5 separate regions of the Homo sapiens genome follow, and all the other regions are reported to be linked to region 5. Evidence: microRNA targets listed by miRTarBase, many of them from high-throughput screens and not tested one by one. Region 5 holds a microRNA gene; each other region holds the end of a gene's coding sequence.

Region 1 (3,284 bases), not on the chromosome of region 5:
CTCGAGTGCAGGCAGAATTGGATCAGGTCGTGGGGAGGGACCGTCTGCCTTGTATGGGTGACCAGCCCAACCTGCCCTATGTCCTGGCCTTCCTTTATGAAGCCATGCGCTTCTCCAGCTTTGTGCCTGTCACTATTCCTCATGCCACCACTGCCAACACCTCTGTCTTGGGCTACCACATTCCCAAGGACACTGTGGTTTTTGTCAACCAGTGGTCTGTGAATCATGACCCACTGAAGTGGCCTAACCCGGAGAACTTTGATCCAGCTCGATTCTTGGACAAGGATGGCCTCATCAACAAGGACCTGACCAGCAGAGTGATGATTTTTTCAGTGGGCAAAAGGCGGTGCATTGGCGAAGAACTTTCTAAGATGCAGCTTTTTCTCTTCATCTCCATCCTGGCTCACCAGTGCGATTTCAGGGCCAACCCAAATGAGCCTGCGAAAATGAATTTCAGTTATGGTCTAACCATTAAACCCAAGTCATTTAAAGTCAATGTCACTCTCAGAGAGTCCATGGAGCTCCTTGATAGTGCTGTCCAAAATTTACAAGCCAAGGAAACTTGCCAATAAGAAGCAAGAGGCAAGCTGAAATTTTAGAAATATTCACATCTTCGGAGATGAGGAGTAAAATTCAGTTTTTTTCCAGTTCCTCTTTTGTGCTGCTTCTCAATTAGCGTTTAAGGTGAGCATAAATCAACTGTCCATCAGGTGAGGTGTGCTCCATACCCAGCGGTTCTTCATGAGTAGTGGGCTATGCAGGAGCTTCTGGGAGATTTTTTTGAGTCAAAGACTTAAAGGGCCCAATGAATTATTATATACATACTGCATCTTGGTTATTTCTGAAGGTAGCATTCTTTGGAGTTAAAATGCACATATAGACACATACACCCAAACACTTACACCAAACTACTGAATGAAGCAGTATTTTGGTAACCAGGCCATTTTTGGTGGGAATCCAAGATTGGTCTCCCATATGCAGAAATAGACAAAAAGTATATTAAACAAAGTTTCAGAGTATATTGTTGAAGAGACAGAGACAAGTAATTTCAGTGTAAAGTGTGTGATTGAAGGTGATAAGGGAAAAGATAAAGACCAGAAATTCCCTTTTCACCTTTTCAGGAAAATAACTTAGACTCTAGTATTTATGGGTGGATTTATCCTTTTGCCTTCTGGTATACTTCCTTACTTTTAAGGATAAATCATAAAGTCAGTTGCTCAAAAAGAAATCAATAGTTGAATTAGTGAGTATAGTGGGGTTCCATGAGTTATCATGAATTTTAAAGTATGCATTATTAAATTGTAAAACTCCAAGGTGATGTTGTACCTCTTTTGCTTGCCAAAGTACAGAATTTGAATTATCAGCAAAGAAAAAAAAAAAAGCCAGCCAAGCTTTAAATTATGTGACCATAATGTACTGATTTCAGTAAGTCTCATAGGTTAAAAAAAAAAGTCACCAAATAGTGTGAAATATATTACTTAACTGTCCGTAAGCAGTATATTAGTATTATCTTGTTCAGGAAAAGGTTGAATAATATATGCCTTGTATAATATTGAAAATTGAAAAGTACAACTAACGCAACCAAGTGTGCTAAAAATGAGCTTGATTAAATCAACCACCTATTTTTGACATGGAAATGAAGCAGGGTTTCTTTTCTTCACTCAAATTTTGGCGAATCTCAAAATTAGATCCTAAGATGTGTTCTTATTTTTATAACATCTTTATTGAAATTCTATTTATAATACAGAATCTTGTTTTGAAAATAACCTAATTAATATATTAAAATTCCAAATTCATGGCATGCTTAAATTTTAACTAAATTTTAAAGCCATTCTGATTATTGAGTTCCAGTTGAAGTTAGTGGAAATCTGAACATTCTCCTGTGGAAGGCAGAGAAATCTAAGCTGTGTCTGCCCAATGAATAATGGAAAATGCCATGAATTACCTGGATGTTCTTTTTACGAGGTGACAAGAGTTGGGGACAGAACTCCCATTACAACTGACCAAGTTTCTCTTCTAGATGATTTTTTGAAAGTTAACATTAATGCCTGCTTTTTGGAAAGTCAGAATCAGAAGATAGTCTTGGAAGCTGTTTGGAAAAGACAGTGGAGATGAGGTCAGTTGTGTTTTTTAAGATGGCAATTACTTTGGTAGCTGGGAAAGCATAAAGCTCAAATGAAATGTATGCATTCACATTTAGAAAAGTGAATTGAAGTTTCAAGTTTTAAAGTTCATTGCAATTAAACTTCCAAAGAAAGTTCTACAGTGTCCTAAGTGCTAAGTGCTTATTACATTTTATTAAGCTTTTTGGAATCTTTGTACCAAAATTTTAAAAAAGGGAGTTTTTGATAGTTGTGTGTATGTGTGTGTGGGGTGGGGGGATGGTAAGAGAAAAGAGAGAAACACTGAAAAGAAGGAAAGATGGTTAAACATTTTCCCACTCATTCTGAATTAATTAATTTGGAGCACAAAATTCAAAGCATGGACATTTAGAAGAAAGATGTTTGGCGTAGCAGAGTTAAATCTCAAATAGGCTATTAAAAAAGTCTACAACATAGCAGATCTGTTTTGTGGTTTGGAATATTAAAAAACTTCATGTAATTTTATTTTAAAATTTCATAGCTGTACTTCTTGAATATAAAAAATCATGCCAGTATTTTTAAAGGCATTAGAGTCAACTACACAAAGCAGGCTTGCCCAGTACATTTAAATTTTTTGGCACTTGCCATTCCAAAATATTATGCCCCACCAAGGCTGAGACAGTGAATTTGGGCTGCTGTAGCCTATTTTTTTAGATTGAGAAATGTGTAGCTGCAAAAATAATCATGAACCAATCTGGATGCCTCATTATGTCAACCAGGTCCAGATGTGCTATAATCTGTTTTTACGTATGTAGGCCCAGTCGTCATCAGATGCTTGCGGCAAAAGGAAAGCTGTGTTTATATGGAAGAAAGTAAGGTGCTTGGAGTTTACCTGGCTTATTTAATATGCTTATAACCTAGTTAAAGAAAGGAAAAGAAAACAAAAAACGAATGAAAATAACTGAATTTGGAGGCTGGAGTAATCAGATTACTGCTTTAATCAGAAACCCTCATTGTGTTTCTACCGGAGAGAGAATGTATTTGCTGACAACCATTAAAGTCAGAAGTTTTACTCCAGGTTATTGCAATAAAGTATAATGTTTATTAAATGCTTCATTTGTATGTCAAAGCTTTGACTCTATAAGCAAATTGCTTTTTTCCAAAACAAAAAGATGTCTCAGGTTTGTTTTGTGAATTTTCTAA
Region 2 (3,337 bases), not on the chromosome of region 5:
CAGCCTCAGTGCCTGCTTTTCTGTATCACATTCCTGTTGACATAATACAGAGCATGTCTCTTCACAGCCAGTTATGTAGCTCTTTTCTTCCAAGACAAATGGTGGTCTCATGCCATCCAACCCCCACTACCAAATTTTCAAGTTCAAATCCATATACAACTGAAGCAGATAAAAGGAATGAAGGTTAGCTTTCAACCTCCTTTTGTTAGGTTTTGCAATGCAGATTTTTTAAATATTCAGAATCTAATTTCCACGTAGCAATGCAGTTTGAAAGCTATGACAGAAAACTAGACTCATCCATCAAGCACCATCTTAGAGATTTTCTTCTTGAATGCAATTAAGACTGCTAATTACGGACTGAAAAAGATAAATCCTTTATCTACACATGAAGAATCTGAAGGTTTCTGTTCACAGGAAAGCCACATGCCCTTACATGACTAAATATGCCTATATTTATTTACTTTTAAAAATTGAAAGTGCTTGAAAAAGAATCTGATGACAAATGATGAAAGTTGCAAAAACTCATGGGGAAAAATGTATTTGGAGACTCAAGATGGTCTTGATTTTATCCTGAGAATTTTCCACAGTAGTTTATATCTTGGTATTGAAGCTCCAGAACTGTTGATTCCGAACAGCCTCTGCCTGACAGGCTGTGCGAGACATCATGGATTCAGAAACCCAGTGGGAAAGCCAGTGCTATTCCAGAGGATTTGCAATAAAAAACAGCTCTTTTCTTTTCTAGGTGGTGCAGTGATGCTGCTGGTTTATGAATACACCTATTCATGGCTTCAAGAGAACTGGTGATTGCCTATGAAGTGTTTTTCCCCCTTGAGATAATGGATATTTGCTATGCAGCACCATGAAGAAGAGAGACTATCGATCGGCCAGGTGTATAATTATGAAGGAGAAAACTGTTCAAGAACAAAATCTATTTTAATACTTTAAAAAATGTCTATAGGCAACTTGAGATTATAGTTTTGGCTGTATAAATAAAACTGTGAGAAGAAAAAAATAATATGAAACAATGAGGTATTTAAAGTGAATATAGAAAAATAGCATAGAAATCATATATTTATTTCATAAAATAAATAGAAACTTTGTCTCCTGTGTTCCTCTTCAATGCTTCACAATGAAAATTCATTGTATTGATCAGCATTTTTCCTAAGAGGTCTAGAAATGCTTAAACTATTGAAAATAAATCAAATTATTCAAAGACTGGATTAAAAAAAAGTTAAGCCAAAATTTAAGCAGTTTTTATAATGAATTAAATTATTCCATAAATAATATTTAAAGAGCACAAGAAAAATTTTTTAAAGTGCACTAAAATGACCTTTTAAGAATGTTTAATTTTATGAATACTATGTTAAAATGTAAATCTGTTGGTTTTTTTTAGTAACTATGCACATATCAGCTCTATTTTCCTACATCTACTTTATATCTCATATTGCTGTAAGATAATAAATAGGTATTTTAAAACATTGTTTAAAACAGAATGTTAAAACACTGTTGTTTAAGCATGTTTAAATCAAGGTATTCCAAATCTCTTCTAACACAAGTAGGAAACATGAAATAAAATTTACTTTCCTCCACATAGTTCTCTTTGAAGATAAGTTTTGTTGATGAGATATTGTCATGTTAAATCACAAATTGGAAACACCTTTGGACCCATTTGTCAGCCATCAGTATTTGCATCCAAATACCTTTATTCAGCATGCCTACCTGTGCCATTTTTAGGAAGAATGTATAGAACAGAACTGCATTTTCAGGTTATTAGTTTTAAACGACAACTTCAGGTGGGAAGTCAGCTGTCTGCAGTATTAAAATATGTATGATGAAGGGGAAATGTTCTGAAAAAGAAATACACTTAGCATTTCTAAGGATTACTATACTAACATGTATCAACAAAAATATCTCCTTGGTCTTGATGTAACCAAACTTGATTTTATATCTGCATCCAGAGATGATGCTGATTCAGTAAAGTCAACAAGAATAACTGAAAGTCCATATGACACCTGTCCTAAGTTACTACCGTGGGCTATTTCTACTACGGGGCTATTTCACTAAAGCATTTTGAAAATAAAAAGTAAAAGATAACATGGTAATTATTACTTTTTATTAATTTAGAGCATTTGAAGTATAAAAATAAAAGGCTTTTGACATACTGTATATACATACATAGCCTTCTGTTGTACATCCTTTCCAACGTGTTTTTTAAAATTTATATTTCAGTCCAATATTCAATAAAAGGGTCATTAAAAACAAAACAAAATTGTGAAAAAAAAGAAATAAGAATGTGTCTCTGTTGCACAACTGCATTCTATCCTTGCAGGTAATATTCTTACATCCAATGAGAGCGCTGCCTGCATAGAGGTCATGAAATTGAACCTTTAACCTCTCCATGTGGATCAGATAGAAAAGGATTTCTGAAGAGTGCATTTGCCAGTTTAAAAGCAACACTTTTACCATCTATGAGATAGAGGAAATATGTCAACATTAACCAATAATAATCTTTAAAAGTTAACCCTTTAATCCATCCTATTTTCCTTCTCGTATTTTAAAAAGTGGCTTTAAATCATAATTTTCTTTGAATAGCAAATTGTATCTGATATCTTTTAAAAATTACTCCATGTGAATTCACTGTTAAGACCTAGAGGGAGAAAAGGAAACTTCAATACCATTAATATTAGATTTTTTAAAATACAAGAACCAGAAAAAAATTATAAATAGCACAATAACAAGAGATTTCTTAATTTAGATAAAGAAAATAACATTATTTGCATTTCCACACAAGCAAGTAATATTTTTTAAAGCCCCCTAACAGCCACCTAAAAACATTTGATAAAGAATAGTTCTGTACCTTACATCAGTTTTTCAGATGACAGGAGAGTCCCTGTATGGTATGGTTTTAAAGAAGTCTCCACCAAAATATTGGATTGGATCTTTGTTCCATTCAGTTTATAGTCTATTTTCTCACCAGACTGGGAACTCCAGATGTCAATGGAAGTTTTACAAGATCAAAGGAAGACTATGGCCCTGAGAGTTCATCTGCTCCTTCTGCTTATTCTTCTCCTGAAGTTATAATCCTCTATTTGTAGCACTGAATTTCGGTTGCTTTAGAAATAAATGCAGTTCAAAGCTCTCTATAAGATATCTGCTGTCTGAAAAAAGCAGTCACTCTAACATAATTTGTGTGTCAGAAATCTGCTTACTGTTTACATCCTAGTGATTTGAAAACCTAACTAATCTAGCCATCTGAGTTTTAAACGAAGCCACGAAACCGATGTGGTGGAACCGCATTGCCATGTAGACTGTGCACAGCACAGACCGGAAGAAATTA
Region 3 (3,337 bases), not on the chromosome of region 5:
ACAATGAAAAATCTGAGCCATGAATAGGTTTTCCATTTTGAATCTAACTTCTAGATGATCTGTATTTTGACCTTAAAGGGGCCAAAATATTTAATATGGGTGAAGCTCATGTTCCATTACCTGTAAAGGTCTAATGCAACAGAAAAATGGTCATTTTACATTGGTTAGAATTTTTAACTAGGTCTTTCATATTATTTTGTTTAGCACATGACAGACTTATACACATATTTTAAAAAATCAAACATGGAATTTCTATATACATCAAACCTTTAACAATGTCTGTCTCTGAATTGCTATTATAGTGTTCAAAATTATACAAACAAACATCCAGTAAACAGCATTTTATTTTATGACACTCTGTGTTAATACAATAAATATACAAAACTTCCAACCCACTGAAACATGCAACATTAGAGGGACACATGGAGGGCATTTCTGTAGAACCATGACAGTCACCATGATGGCAGCGCAGTATTAGTTACTGACAAAATATACAAACATCTCTAGATAAATAATCCAAGTCCCAAATTACAAATCACTGAGTAATGACTTTCCGGTGTTCAAACTTTAGTTTGAAATAAAATTGCCATAATTTAATATTACAAAATGATAAATGACACGGATGACTGCTGTGTGAAGACCATTTTATGACTATGATTTCATGACTGTGATTTTAGTACTAAATATAGAACACTTAACAAATGCCAATCTTTTGCTGAGTGAAAATTTAACAATTTACTGAGAGAAAAGTAAATATAAGAATTTAAAGTTCCTTTCATACTTGATCATACTATAAGCATTGCCATCATTTCAATGCACATATATTTTTAAAAAACAATTTTCTCTCTCAAACTCATATTAAATAACTGGATTTTAAAACATTTTCCCCATCCACACAAAAAAAGATATGTGGGTTCTAATTATTCTTTGCTATTTAATAATGCTACCTTTGAAGATTTCTACATAATATAAACATTCCAATTCTGAAGCAAAGTATTTCAGCATTTTTCAAAAGTCTCTAATATATCTTTTGTTTGTAGTGTACAGGAAAAAATGGACTTGGGATATAAGTTAATGGTGAATATAGGTGCACTTGCTGTATTTTGTGGTTAATGTTTTGAATGTATGCAAAATCCACACTCAATAAAGCACACTGATAAAATAGATTTCCAATAAGACTACAGGCTCTGAAAAACAAACTGGCTAAGTTGGTTGAGAACATAGGTAGAAATTATCGCTGATTAGAAATATTTACAAAAAATAGCTTTAAATTCATACGCTGAAGAATAAAAGAAATGTCTTCCAAGTATACCTGATGTCAATAAGATCCCAAATAAATCAAATGTAAACACCATCTGGATGGATCTGTGTTACCTAGTGACATGCAGCGCTGCTTCATGGATAGTGAAAACTTGGCATCCCACCTCTAGCATAAAACTTTTTCTGTAACTACAGGTTTGGGGAGAATGAAAGTGATTTAACTATTTATGCCTATCTGATTTTTTAAAAAATAAGGATTTCCAGCCTCTAATATCACAATCCTTACTTAAAATCTAATTGAATAATCACTATCATTCTGCAATCTTAATTTAGTTAAAGACTTTCAAAACACAGCAGCATGACTTACAGATGTCTTTGAGTCATTTATTTAATCAGTGGTAAAATTGATTCAAAGGTTGAACCCAAGAATACTATAAGAATGAAGTTCTGTGCTGCATAGTAACAATTTTAACGTGATTATCTTAATGCAGTTAACTGTATTTATATTTTCTTGCTTGGTGCAAGTTAAATGCTTTTTTTTTTATTGCTGGAAATTTTAGATATATTCAGTCTGTCTCAAAAAGTGAAAGACAGGTGCATTTAGGGATTCAAGTATGTGAAAAAATGCCAGGGTCTTTTTATGTTTAATGCCACTGGAGATGAAAAGCTAAAAGGAAAATCCCTTAAATACTGTACAATCTTTTTAGACAACAGTTAGGCTAGCCTTTAATACCTCTGTTAAAAATCACACACACACATCCCCAAAAAAGAGCTGCCAGACACAATCTTAGTTGTAACCACAGAATATACCAAAGTTTTCATATAGCAAAATGTTACTATATGACTACCGAAATTTTTTTAAAAAGGAATTATTACCACTACTTTCTACTGCATTAACTACCTTCTCTTTTGGATAATGTACTGCATATTATATAAACTTCTTATATTGCACCCCCAAACTTTTTATTTAAAAGAAATTCTTGCAGAATATCATTTCTGTGATTCCATTAACCCCTGAATCCTACAACCATAAGCAGTACAGAAGCCAAAACACTAATTCTTTTAATATAAGAAATGTGGTGCCCATGCAAATTAGAGATTGTTATCAAAATATCAGCTATTCTAAAAAAAAGAAAAGAAAAAGATGACAAATTTTACATTATCTACTACAAAATGCACATAGGCTCTTCACTGGTGACTGAAACAGCTAAAAAGCAAGCCAATTTAAAATCCCTAAGTCTCTGCTGGCCTATTTCTTTCAATATAAATAGGGAAAAAGGAATGAAACATGGTTTACTTTTCCAATGTGCAATCCTTATCTCTAAAGATTCTTGAAAGAACTACTGCAGTTAGTATTAAATGCGTTTTTAATCATAAGTACCATTATTAATTTTCAGTGGGTCACCACTGAAATAATTCACTGAATGTCATCCCCCAAAAATATGGAGAATATTTATTTAGCATGTAATATTTTTTCTGCAAGGGGCACTGAAATATTAAGAAACTATTAGGTAAAGTAATAAGACAAGGAAGTTTTCCTGGTTTTAGCCCATGCACAAGTGAACAGGAAATATCCATGCTGTCTGTACTGTGTGTTTTGAACATAAAAATATTTGTAGAATACAGTAACTGGAGAAAAAGGTACAGTCAAAAGGTAACAGTGTATTGTTTGAAGATTCTTAAATCTGGTTACCCTTGAAAGCATTCTGAGCTGCACTAGATGCTGCAGTTGAAGCTGCATTTGCAGCTGCGGTCTGGACAGTTTTGTTGGACATCACACCTGTTGCAAACTCCTGTTGGGCCTTCTCAAAACTAGCACCTGTTGTGCGATATAGTCCATGTACCTACAGAGGCACAAAAAAGTGGGAGAAGGTAAGTAGCAACCTACGCATTCATTTCCAGCAGCTCTTAATCTCAACATTAATCAAACATAAAAATACTAGATTGTAGTCATGATTCCTAAGATCAAGAATATTAGCCACCAAACTGACACACAATAATTGTATTTAAACATTTTCTTAATATAGGTTTTCCTTTTCTTCTCCAAGCAGAAGAGATAATTATGCTAATTTAAACC
Region 4 (3,323 bases), not on the chromosome of region 5:
CACGGCGAATGTCGAACACTAGAGTTACAGACGACAGGCAACAAGAACATGCAGAGCCGGCCGCCAGCCAGCTCCTACGCCCCGTGCCCGCCATGGCCACAGGGGGGAGCTGCTGGGCGCGCCTCCACCTCAGCCTCCACGGGGCACCTTCCAGCCACTGCTGTGCCTCAGCCACCTAGGAGCCATCCCTGAGGCCATGGCCACCAAGACAGGTGAGGGAGGCCCCAGGGCACACAGCCCCAGGATCTTGCCCCCATTTCCAACCCTGGCAGCGCTGCCAGCCATTCTTTGGTCTTCCCACTGCTCACCTGTCCTCAGAGCCAGTACTGATCTAGGGGAGCAGGTGCCACCTCCATCTCCCAGCTGTCCCCCCACCCCTGGGGCTCCCCAGCTCTACCACCCCGGAAGCTGAGCCCTGGAGACACCCTGAGGGGCGGGCGCCACCTCCTTCCCAGAAAGAGCAGAGCAGCTGGCAGACTAGAGCTCAGCTGCTCCTGACCACTGACAACCGGGAGATGTCTCGGCAGACACCACTTATCCCAGAAAAGACCAGAGGCTCCAAATGGGAACCAAGTGCATAAATACAAATAAAAACAGAGTTTACACATCGATGACAGTAGCACAAAATATACGTAATTTCTAGATACTGAGCTAATAAATCACTGTAGTTAAAAACAAAATAGATTCACTGAAACCAAGTCGATAGTTACCTTGGAGTAGTGGACTAGCTGCAGAATGTCACGGACCCACTTCCTTTAAAACAACAGAATGTTGCTATCAGTTTGTCTTACGTTAAAACAGTTCTTAAACCACCTACTATATTAAATACATTCTAATTTGGTCACTGATGATAAAGATTTTTACCTAGACGTTTTGCACTTAAAAAATGCTATTAAAAGTCTTTGGCAAAGCCACGGTCGGGGAGAAACACGTCGGTGCCGCTTCCCACTCGTGTGCCCTCACCACCCACGTGGCCCGCGGAGAGCCAGGTCGCCGTAAACCACAGATGCCTGTTCCTGCTCAACTCCTAGGGACAGTCCCAGCCCTGAGCAGAAGGGTCAGGTCATCGCGGGGATGCGTTCTCAGTCACGTTTCTGCTGCGGCCGAAACCACACTGTCGCTCCAGGGGCAGACGGGACAGGGGACCACAGCAGAGCCGGGACCTGGGGGGGGTCGCTTCCCCCGTGTGCTCCAGGCCACTGAGAGGCTGTGGCCGGGTCCTCTCCTGTGACCTCACTGGCCACATGGATGAGCTCCGATGATAACTGGCAGCGCGGGTCAGGTGACTGCCACATACACCCGGCACCCCGGACCCTGGCGCACACACGGCCCGAGCATCTCCCACACGAGCAGGACCAGGGTGGTCACGGGTGCTGGGGAGGCAACCACTCTCCCAGTTCACTGCCTGACCCCTGCCAGGACGCCCAGCGACATCTCCAAGGAGCTACAAAGCACCATTGCCTAGGACAGCTCTGAGTAATCAGAAAACAGCTTTTTTTTTTTTTTTTTGAGCCAGAGTCTCGCTCTGTCACCCGGGCTGGAGTGCGGTGGCGCGATCTCGGCTCACTGCAACCTCTGCCTCCCAGGTTCAAGCGATTCTCCTGCCTCAGCCTCCCGAGTAGCTGGGACTACAGGTGCCCGCTCTCACGCCAGGCCAATTTTTGTATTTTTACTAAGACGGGGTTGCACCATGTTGGCCAGGCTGGTCTTGAACTCCTGACCTTAGGTGATCCACCCGCCTCCCAAAGTGCTGGGATCACAGGCATGAGCCACCGCACCCAGCCAGAAGACAGCTGCTTAAAAAAGTAATTCTAAAAGCTCTGACGTCGGATCCCCTCTGCTGCGTTTTTTGTTAGTATCAAACTGTCTTTCAGAGGGTTAAGGGAGAAAACAAAACCCATGATGCTCCTTCACTTGCTCTCCGAGGCGCAGGCGCACAGAAACAGCGGCCACGGACCACAGAAATGCAGGACGGAGCTCTCCTGCTCCCACGCCACGAGGCTGGAACATCAGCCCCAGTGCCTGGTGCACACACAGGCTCAGGAAAACTAGCTCCTTCCATCAAGTTAAAAACATCTCAATCCATAATCACTCTGCTTATAAATACTATTTGCACTTAATTGGAAAATGTAAAAATCCTAGGTCTTACTACTAGATAAACACTCATTTCATAAGTACTAGTTTCAGAATATGAAATCTAATATATTTAGCATACTATGAATTGACAATAAACTGATATGAAATATTTAAGTTCACAGTACACATATAAAGCTTCATATTATCGCATATTAAAAAAAAACAGAAAGCAGCTTAGAGCAATTTATAACCTCTAACTAAATTCCTCGGTTTACAAAGTGCTTTGAAAGACCCCAGCTCCCAGTGGCCTAGTCACAGTAGTGTCAGGACCACAAACTGCTGTGATCACAGCGCCGCGTGGATCCCGGAGGCACCAGGCCCCTCAGGGACAGGCAGGCGGGTTCTGTGGGTTTGCATTTAAGGTTTTTGAGGAAAATACCTTGAAACCGTCGGTAGGACTAGATAGGTGACAACGTGTGACAGGAAAGGCTGTCAGGCCAAGCGCAGGCGGGGCTCCCAGCCTCATGATAACGTGTAACAGGAAGGGCTCCCAGCCTCGGTCCTCACGTCGGTGGCACCAGAAGCGAGTGACGACATGTCCGTGGTCAGGAGGAGCGCTGGAGCCAGGGTGCCCAGCAGGAGGTGGCTGTCCCCGCTGAGGTCACCACTGCAGGGGCTGGCCCTTGCAGTAGGGGCACTCAGGTGCGGTGGCCGCACACGGCTCACAGAGGATGTGGTGCTGACAGGGCCGCAGGACAGCACCGTGGGCCCGCTCCCGGCAGGCCACACACTGCTTGGCGCGGAGCTGGAAGATCACCTGCAGGGCCAGAACAATGACGGGCTCAGGAGGCCCCTGCCCAGGCTGGGCCAGCTGGGGAGCCGGAGGGCCTTCCGGGCAGGACTCAGCATCTCAGGCCGCCCGGCCACCAGCTACAGAGACAGGGTCAGGGAGACGCCCCAGCCAGGGCCACCTCAGGGAGAAGGCAGCTGCGGGGTCAGGGGGTATGCTCTGTCTTAAGAGCCCTGGGCAGAGGACAGCCTCCTGGGGCCACCACAGACACGGCAGTGGCCAGACAGGCCAGGCCCCTGAGGGCAGCTGGGTGCCCAGGATGTGGGCTACGCAGGACCCTCTGTCCTATAGCAGCGAGTCCAAGAGCCCACCCTTAGCAGGCGAGGTGAGGAGGGGCACGCCGAAGTGGAGGGGTCATGTGTGAGGGTCACAGCTGTGAACAGGGAGGGATGGGGCC
Region 5 (3,337 bases):
AAGACAGTTGTGGAACCAGGCTCACCCCTAATATCAGCATTGCCTTGGCCAAGAGTACAAATGGAGGCCCACATAGATTATACATCCAATGTATGAGTTATATATCAAGCTAGCATCACTAGTTAAAACATTGCTACTTCCACAAATATACCCAAATTCAGAATCCTTAGACTTCCAGAAATCTACTGAAAAATGGTCTCTTCCCACCTCCAGTTCCTACCACAAGCAGTCCAGTGTACAACCAAGAACGTAAGTTAAAGCTTCACCCGTGGTCCTTGAAACAGTAATGATTTGACCATCACTTGGCTCAAGTGGGCACACACAGTCAGCATACTTCACTCTAGAGAGGAAAGACCTCAGAAAGAGGGCCACAAGCCTTGGAAGTTTAATTGTGACCATTTGGGCAGAGAATTCTGAGGTCTCATGTATCAGGAATGTGTTCCAGAAGGAAGATATATGGGGTCCAGATGGTTTTATTCTCTTATCCCAAGGACTTCTTGCTTAATGGGGAGGGAAAGGAACAAAGAAGGATGAGAGTGGAGCTCTCTAAAGCATAGGGCTCAAAGCAAGAGGTCTTCTTGCCAGGATTTAGGGCAGTACTAGCGGGAATCCCAATTGCAAGACGTCAGGCAGAAAAGGAAAGATGAAGTTGTCCCATGGGGCCAGCTTGCAGAAACCCAATCATGACAGCGATTGCAAACACTGTGGGGCCAGTCTCGGTGCACCTGAGCTTTCTTTTTTCTGATGAGAAAACCCAAAGCGTTTTATTTAGCTTTCTGAGCTAATCTTATAAGAAAATAAAATTCCAGCCTCAATTGTTGAAATTGTTACTTAGGAGAAAACTAAATAGAGAAATTTGAGATTAAATTCATAAACAGGGATGTTAGTAACAAACCACTTTGTAGGAGTTAGTGAGAGACGATGAGTCATAAAGACAAATTTCAAGCAAACATTTACCCATTAAACAAGTGTCATTAGCATCCATATTATAGGTACTAGGGATATGCCAGTGAATAATTCAAAGTTCTTGCCCTTGAGGAACTTAATTATTTTAGGATCAGCACATATATGTGTGCTCACACACCACACCCACTTCACGCACACACTTGAATAGTGATAAATTCTACGATAAAATGTAAACAGAGGTGGGAGTGGTGAGTGAAGAACTCTCTGAAGCTGTGATACTTAAGCAGAGACATGAAAGAAATGAGCTTTGTACACCTCTAGGGGAAGAGCATTCCAGGCAGAAGTAACAGTAAGTGCAAAGTCCCTGGGGTAAGAATAAGCTTAGAATGATCAAAGAATAATGCAGGAAAGTATAGCTAGGTCAGGGTGTGTAAAGGGGAGACAGGTAGAAAATATGAGAGTGGAAAGGTTGGCATTGCCAGATTGTGCAATGTACCATGTGGATCTAGAATTCAAGACAAAGGTCTGGACTCCAGCTGAATATTCAGGAGTGACTAGCAAGAGGTGACAGTTAAAGCTCAAAGAAAAAAAAATTCACCCAAGAGTAAACAGAATAAAACTAATCAAATTTGAGAGGAGTCCTGGAAAGCATTGATAGTGAACATGGCAAGAGGAATCAACGATGAAGCCTGGAAATAAGTGATCCTTTCTGGAGGAATGAAGTGTACAGGAGGGTTAAATATTAAAGAGAAGTTAGTTCAACTTAAAACCACCAGAGGTCCATTGGCTTTGATGAGCAGGAAGTCACTGGGGGCCCCTGCCAAGGCAACTGCTATGCACTGGTGAGAGTAGAAGTCAAAACTCTACTTGAGTTTTGAAGTCAAAACCCTTGAGAAATGTGTTAGAAATGAGTGAGGAGATTCTGCAAATTTGGATTGGTTTTTTAAGAATCTTGGCTGTGTAGGAGGGAGAATGGATAGGGCAGCAATTTCAGGATGAATTGGGGAAAATACTGGAGTTAAGTTGGAAAAAACTGATGTATGCTTGTTGGCTACATCAATAAGCACACACCAGTTTTTTCCATCTTAACTCCAGAAAGGAGCTGAGAAAGAAAGAGACGTTTAAGGTGCATGGGAGAGGATGTTGCTGAAGCAGCCTTCTCCATTCCACACATTGCCTTCCTGTGGGAAGACTTCAATTAACATTGCTTACTCTATCTTATTTGATTGGCAAATTTAGGAAGAAAATGGCAATCTTGGCTCAAGTCTTCCCTTTGCCCTATCAGAAGTGAACCTGCCCACAGAAGGCACAAATTTGCCTCTGCTCCTCCATGATGTAATTTTGACCTGTAAAGGCTACCATACAGCACTGCTGAGAACTGACCAGTCCTGGGGTTCAGATCTCAGGTCCATTTGACAGAGACACCAAGCCACATCCTCCAACTCAGCTCTATCCATAATATTGCTGTGGCCTCTGTCTTTATTCTTTGATTCACTTCCTGAATTGTGCAGCACTGAGGTGGAAAAGACAGAAGGCTGCTTACTGGTCCTCAGTGGACTCAACATTGTGAATAATTGATTAATTAAGATATGAAGGAAAGGAAAGGAAATTTTACAAAGAAGGAGCAAACAGAAGAAATGACTTCCCATCCTCTCAAACCAAAAAGTAGGAGAGAAGCATGTGCATGGGAGACAGGAGTTGAAAGTGTTCACAGCTGATATTGTCTACTTTCTCTATGCAGCTGGAAACAAAGCTATTTGCTGAGAGTGAGAATGTTAAAGATTTGAAGCCTTGAAGAGGTTGAAACACTACTTGAGAGAATGAGAGAGAGGGGATAAAGGATAAGTAAATGTGAGGAAAGTCCCCTCATTGCAATATGTTCACAACTAAATTGCACTTGCCCCAAAAACAAAGCCAAGGGAAAAAAATGTAGAAAATGTAGGTAGAAATGGCTACATAATCAGCTTACAATTTCAACTACAATTGACAATCAGTATTCCTCCCAGGGTAGACTCTTGGGGAAAGAGCAAGGGCCTAGAAACCTGGATTTATATCCCAGAACTGCCAGTAATGAATACATTGGGTGAGCTGATGAAGAAGATAATTGCATGTGGTTGGAAGCTGCTGGCAGGGCCCTCATGACCCCTCCCTCCTGGTGTCCACTCCTTTGTGTAACTCCCTCCTCTTGTATGTGAGCTTGACCTAATGACTCACTTCTAAAGAACTGAGTCCAGCAAGAGTAATGGGATGTCACTTCTGGTATTAGGTTACAAAAAACTGACTTCTGTCTTTATCCACGCTCTCACTCTCTCCATGTTTGCTCTGATGAGGCAAGTTGAAGAGGTACACATGGTGGGGAACTGAGGGTGACCTCCACCTGACTACCAGCAAGGAACTGAAGCCCTCAATGCAACACCCATCCAGGAACTGC

What was found. Region 5 holds the annotated microRNA hsa-miR-3148 (UGGAAAAAACUGGUGUGUGCUU, at 1,968-1,989, opposite strand). A microRNA usually pairs through its seed, bases 2 to 8, with sites in the 3' UTR of a target mRNA and lowers its output. Matches are read on the target gene's strand: a 7mer-m8 pairs with bases 2 to 8, a 7mer-A1 pairs with bases 2 to 7 and ends in A, and an 8mer does both.
Region 1: miRTarBase lists CYP1B1 as a target of hsa-miR-3148. Seed matches in the 3' UTR shown: 8mer at 640-647 and 8mer at 3,236-3,243.
Region 2: the mRNA of SLC25A21 is a reported target of hsa-miR-3148. Seed matches in the 3' UTR shown: 7mer-m8 at 819-825 and 7mer-m8 at 1,156-1,162.
Region 3: the mRNA of SCAMP1 is a reported target of hsa-miR-3148. Seed matches in the 3' UTR shown: 7mer-m8 at 2,532-2,538 and 7mer-m8 at 1,047-1,053.
Region 4: the mRNA of UNKL is a reported target of hsa-miR-3148. Seed matches in the 3' UTR shown: 7mer-A1 at 2,122-2,128.

The regions. Positions count from the first base shown.
Region 1 is chr2:38,068,010-38,071,293 of GRCh38, reverse strand. It overlaps CYP1B1 (cytochrome P450 family 1 subfamily B member 1), which reads left to right. Exons shown (of 3, transcript NM_000104.4): 3 at 1-3,284. The coding sequence ends at 572. Among named protein-coding and RNA genes, the nearest start is that of CYP1B1, 6.5 kb to the left of the region's middle. RefSeq lists a cis regulatory region at 298 and an enhancer at 226-370.
Region 2 is chr14:36,678,125-36,681,461 of GRCh38, reverse strand. SLC25A21 (solute carrier family 25 member 21) reads left to right here. Exons shown (of 10, transcript NM_030631.4): 10 at 743-3,337. The coding sequence ends at 804. It overlaps PAX9 (paired box 9), which reads right to left. Exons shown (of 4, transcript NM_001372076.1): 4 at 2,100-3,337. Among named protein-coding and RNA genes, the nearest start is that of PAX9, 18 kb to the right of the region's middle.
Region 3 is chr5:78,475,271-78,478,607 of GRCh38, reverse strand. It overlaps SCAMP1 (secretory carrier membrane protein 1), which reads right to left. Exons shown (of 9, transcript NM_004866.6): 9 at 1-3,104. The coding sequence ends at 2,940. Among named protein-coding and RNA genes, the nearest start is that of SCAMP1, 120 kb to the right of the region's middle.
Region 4 is chr16:1,363,503-1,366,825 of GRCh38, forward strand. UNKL (unk like zinc finger) reads right to left here. Exons shown (of 15, transcript NM_001372107.1): 15 at 1-2,893. The coding sequence ends at 2,738. GNPTG (N-acetylglucosamine-1-phosphate transferase subunit gamma) reads left to right here. Exons shown (of 11, transcript NM_032520.5): 11 at 1-611. Among named protein-coding and RNA genes, the nearest start is that of GNPTG, 13 kb to the left of the region's middle.
Region 5 is chr8:29,955,351-29,958,687 of GRCh38, forward strand. MIR3148 (microRNA 3148) reads right to left here and starts at 1,998; the gene lies at 1,922-1,998.